2 separate regions of the Homo sapiens genome follow, and region 1 is linked to region 2. A link means that fine-mapping ties the variant in region 2 to the expression of a gene that starts in the linked region. Tissue or cell type: whole blood. Region 2 holds a variant in brackets; the other region holds the start of a gene. All regions are shown on one strand. Distances are between the middles of the regions.

Region 1 (2,687 bases), 200 kb after region 2:
TCAAGTCTACACTCATGGTAAGCACCCTAGTTCTTGTTTTTTCTAACACTTAAATAATGAATAGGACTTCATCTCCTAGAGCTATTCTCCTTACTCTATTACAACAGTTATTAGTGAGTTTTAATTAGACAAAACTGCCATTCCTTTTGCTACCTCACTATACTGTCAAGCACCTATTAAGAATATTACAGTAGTAAGTATTAGCACCTTTTAAATTTACATTAACAATAACAGAGAAATGGGGAGGCAGGAAATGAAAGGAGAGGGGTAAAAATAGCTCACAGATGTCATAACCAAAGTTTAGAGGAACTCAAAAAATCATTAATCACTATTTTTTAAATTTTCTAAAAAACTATACTATGCACATCCTGGTTAAAATTGTATGAGTGATAATTTGCCTCTCATCAATTAAAAATGGGGAAATAGGCAAGGTCATTAACTCTGCTGTGGCTGAATCCCAGACTGTGCTTTCTTTAAAAGGGAAGAGAGATAGTCTACGGAGACTAACCAGTTCAGTGGTTGAGTGATTTCTACAAGAGTCATCACCAACTCAAAACTTTCCTGAAGTCCTTCTGACTATTTTAACGCTTGCCATCTGCAGAAGGTAAAAATCTGCTAGAGGCCAAGTTCCAATCGCTATCCAGCCCACCACTGACCCTCTTTGATTTCATTCTCCATCAACAAGGAGGACATGGACAGGGTCAATGGTCTAATGCGTTTTAGTGACAGCCCTGATTTTTCATTGGAAAGAGGAGAAAGATCGTTTCCCATTTTTCTCCTTGACCCACGGATTTGACCAACTCAGGCACATTAAAAGTCTGCAAAAGCAGGTAGCCTGCAGGAAGTTCACCCTAGGGGGTGAGTTCCTAGTTGGGCTGAAACGGGTTTCCAGGCATGTTTATCACGTGGTCTAAACGTGCTCAGGGTTAGTGCCAGAAGTTTGAAAAGCAGAATTAGTAGAGCTGACAATAAAACCTCAGGGCTCCAAAACCCGGTCCAAGAAACTTTTCTTAAACTTGCGTCCAGCGCCTGCTTCAGCGCCTTCGCCATGAGTCTGCGCGGGCAGACAGCGGAGACTCTAGTGCGTTGGGTCGCTCATACCCCGAGGCACCCGGGGCTGCCGCCGCGCCGCCCCTGCCCCACACTGGAGCGGGGTTCCCTGCTGCGCCTGGACCCGGCGCCGCGTCACCTCCCGAAGTGGGGCGCCCGAGGGGCCGCGCAGGGGGTCAGGCGGAGACCAAGAGTAGCAGGGGGCGAGGGAAGCCCGGGCAGGCCGGCGCCGCTGCTGGCGCCCGCAGCTCCTGCCCCCACGCTCACCTGGGACCCGGCCGCCAGGAAGCGGGGCCGCAGCGCTAGGGCTCGCAGAAGCTTCCCGGCCTGCGCTGCTACGGGGGACGCCATCTTAAACAGGAAACTCGGCACGGGGCAGTAGGGCGGGCGCGGGCAGGGGAAGGAGGCGGAGGAGGAGCAGCGGGAGGAGGGGTCAGAGGAGAAGCGGGCGCGGGGAGGAAAAGGAGGAGGAGGCAGAGGCGGTCTGGGCCGGGCCGGGCCTGACCCCTGCGTCCCGGGGGCACAGGCGTTCTTAAGGCTGCAGAGCCCTGGGTCCCCCACCCGGCCCCGGTTCACTTTGAGCGGTCCCAAGGCCTGAGGGCCTACTGTCCAGTCCCCAGGTTATCGTCCTGAGCAAAGACAGACCCCGAGCCCTGCGGTCTTGGGGCTCAAACAGTCCCTGGATGGCCAAACAAGCAAATATTCGCCATGGCAGTGGGTGCTGGAAGGGTGGCTCACGGAGCTGACGCCCTCCGCAGAGAACCGTGGTCTAGTCCTGCGGTCACGAGGCCTATCTGGGACAGTGGTGTTTGAGCTGAGACTTTAACGAATAGAGACAGGTGAGGTTCCTGCAGCCCAGGGCTTCAGGTGAGTCAAGGAGAGGCCATTGGAGGCTCTCCATCCCTTAAGGAGTTGTGGGTGTTTTGTTTTGTTCTATCCTTAACCTAAAATCAATGTAAAGCTGAGAGATGAAGCCGGGTGGGTCGGTTGGGGACTTGGAGAACTTCTCTGTCTAGCTAAATGATTGTAAATGCACCAATCAGCGCTCTGTGTCTAGCTAAAGGTTTGTAAATACACCAGCCAGCCCTCTGTGTCTAGCTAATCAGGTGGGGACTTGGAGAACTTTTCTGTTAGCTAAAGGATTGTAAATGCACCAATCAGTGCTCTGTGTCTGGCTAAAGGTTTGTAAACACACCAATCGGCACTCTGTAAAAACGCACCAATCAGCGCTCTGTGTCTAGCTAAACGTTTGTAAATGCACCAATCAGCACTCTTTAAAAAGGGACCAATCAGCACTCTGTAAAATGGACCAATTGGCACTCTGTAAAATGGACCAATCAGCAGGATGAGGGTGGGGCCAAATAAGGGAATAAAAGCTGGACACCGGCGCCAGTAGTGGCCCCTAGTTGGGGTCTCCTTCCAGGTTGTGGTTGCTTTGTGCTTTTGCTTTTTGCAGTAGCTCTTGCTGCTGTTCACTGTTTGGGTCCGCACTATCCTTATGAGCTATAACACTCACCACAAAGGTTTGCAGTTTCACTCCTGAGGTCAGGGAGACTGCGAACCCACTGGGAGGAATGAACAACTCCGTATGCCCCACCTTCGAGGGCTGTAACACTCACTGCAAAGGTCTGCAGCTT
Region 2 (2,687 bases):
GAGACATGTAAACATATCAGAAGGGGAACAGAGAAGAGTCACACTTAAATTCTGACTCTGTAGCCCAGGCTGGAGTGCAATGGTGCAATCTCAGCTCACTGCAACCTCTGCTCCCGGGTTCAAGTGATTCTCATGCCTCAGCCTCCTGAGTAGCTGGGATTACAGACATGTGCCACCATACCCAGCTAATTTTTGTATTTTTAGTAGAGACAGGGTTTTGCCATGTTGGCCAGGCTGGTCTCAAATTCCCGACCTCAGGAGTACCTGAGATACCAGCTACTTTTTGTTTCAAAAAGTAGATAACAATTAAAATATTAATATGTTGCTTTAGCAGTTTTACTTCTAACAATTTATCAGAAATATGAAAGTTCATAAGGACATATAGCTGGTACTAGGAAACAATACACTTTTACAATGTTTAAACTGCATGAAAAAACACTATTTCTGAATCAAGTGTAAAAAAGGTTTTTTTTTCTTTTCTTTTAGTGGGTAAAGTCTAGTTATTCTGACTGCTTATCATTATTACTGTTGATTCTGGTAGTGAAAAAAAACTTTTGAATTCCATTGAGATAGTAATGAACACAGAATTGTAACAATAGACAGATGGAAGTAATATAAAAACACTGTTGAATTTGAATATTTCTTGCTTTTTTGCTTTCACAGAAACACATTATTTTACATTTACTTTATATAAGTGAGGTATTTTATGGTGTTTTCTAAATTCTATTAAGAACATTCTAAAAAGAAAAGGTGACTGTGACAGACAGATTAAAATCCAATCCACAGGCAGTCCCCTTTGGCAAACCACTCTGATTAAGTGGCTCTATTTTATTTCAAGAATATATATCTCTTGCCCCTTTAGGAAATATGTGAATGTTTTCCAAAAGCAAGTAAAGAGTGCCACATCTTAAGCACTAGAAAGCCTATGAGCTTTATCTGGGATCTTTGCTTTCATAGGCTTGTGAAGAAAATCTGAACATGCAGACAGGCAGTCACTGTCACATATTGAAGTTTAACAGTGACTAGAGGAACTATAAAAGCCCAAAACTCTATATTCATTCTGCAGTCATACAAAGAGCAGAGGGTGAATAATTTAACTTCCAAAACAATTAGTCCAGTCCTTTACTTCAAATTCTTCAATAATCCTCCTTTTCCTATAGCAGTCATCAGACATGTACATAATACCTCTGC[C/CT]TTTTTTTTTTTTACCACAACAGTGCACACTATCTGTTTGCTATTTGCTGAATATTTTATTTTTATTTTATTTTATTTTTGAGTCATAGTCTCACTCTGTTGCCCAGGCTGGGGTGCAGTGGCGTGACCTCGCTCACTGGAGCTTCTACCTCCCAGGTTCAAGCAATCCTCACGCTCAGCCCCCTGAGTAGCTGGGACTACAGGTGTGTGCCACCATGCCCAGCTAATTTGTGTATTTTTAGTAGAGATGTGGTTTTGCCATGTTGGCCAGGCTGATCTTGAACTCCTGGCCTCAAGTGATCCACCTGCATGGCCTCCAAAAGTGATGGGATTACAGGCATGAGACACTGCACTCGGCCATGCTGAATATTTTAAAGCTTAAATACATTATTTGAAAAGAGAACAGTATCACTATCAATACGAAAAATAACATATTAATTCCTATAAATTGAAGATAATAAAATACAAAAAAACAGTATTTTTTTTAAAATTAACTAATTAATTTAGAGACAGGGTCTTGCTCTGTTGCCCAGGCTGAAGTGCAGTGGCATAATCATAGCTTACTGCAGCCTTGAACTCCTGGGCTCAAGCAATCCTCTCGCCTTATCTTCCCCAGTAGCTAGGACAACAGACACGTGCCACCACACCTGGCTAACTTTTAAATATTTTTTTGAGATGAGGTTTTGCTATGATTCCCAGGCTGATCTCGAACACCTGGGCTGAAGCGATCCTGTCACCTCAGCCTCCTGAGTGGCTGAAATTACAGGCTCAAGCTACCAAACCTGGGAAAATGTACAATAGTTTTATTAAATTGTAACTAGATACAGGCTGCCAGTGGCTCTGAGCCAAAGCAAAGTGTTTAAGCCATATTGGCACCAAGAGACTTTCTTGAGATTTTCTGGAATTGAAAAAGAACTAAAGAGGGAATACACTTTCTCAATTTTCCCCAATACTGTATTGTGAAAATTTTCAAGTATACAGAGAAGTTGAAAAAAATTGAACAGTGAACACCTATATGCCCATCATCTAGATACTATCATCTGGCATTTGCTGTATTTCCTTTTTCAGACATCATCTTTCTATCCATTCCTCTATGGAGAAATCAAGGCTATTTAATTTAATATTGTTATTTAACTACCTAGAGGGAGTTCTCTCAAGAATCACCAGGTCCCAATCCACAATTTTGGAAAGACTATTGTAAAAGATAACAACATCATTTCCCAGGCCTTGGCCCATCCCAGAAGGCTTGCTACTGTATCTGGCCCATGGCTATCTTTCTTCCTTATCTCTAGTCCCTAACACATAAGTGCAAAACTAAACTAACTCTGCTTGCCATAAAATGCCATTCACAACCTGGCCCTAATTCACTTCTTTGGCCTCATGGTATGTCCATCAGGTAGCGTTTATTGAGCGCTTACTCTGTGCTAGGCCTTGTCCTAGGAATTTCACTTGCTTATCTCATAAAACCCTTAAAACAGTTCTATGAGGAAGGTCTT

The links. PIP is the estimated chance that this variant, and not a neighbour inherited with it, causes the effect.
Region 1: it holds the start of SUCLG2, and the variant in region 2 is fine-mapped to the expression of SUCLG2 in whole blood (INTERVAL, PIP above 0.99).

The regions. Positions count from the first base shown.
Region 1 is chr3:67,653,186-67,655,872 of GRCh38, forward strand. SUCLG2 (succinate-CoA ligase GDP-forming subunit beta) reads right to left here and starts at 1,427. Exons shown (of 11, transcript NM_003848.4): 1 at 1,318-1,427. The coding sequence starts at 1,401. SUCLG2-DT (SUCLG2 divergent transcript) reads left to right here and starts at 1,512. Exons shown (of 7, transcript NR_109992.1): 1 at 1,512-1,917. RefSeq lists a silencer at 1,039-1,718 and an enhancer at 1,234-1,733.
Region 2 is chr3:67,448,363-67,451,049 of GRCh38, forward strand. All of the region lies in intron 9 of SUCLG2 (succinate-CoA ligase GDP-forming subunit beta), which reads right to left. Among named protein-coding and RNA genes, the nearest start is that of SUCLG2, 200 kb to the right of the region's middle. The variant C/CT (reference allele first, on the strand shown) is at 1,192.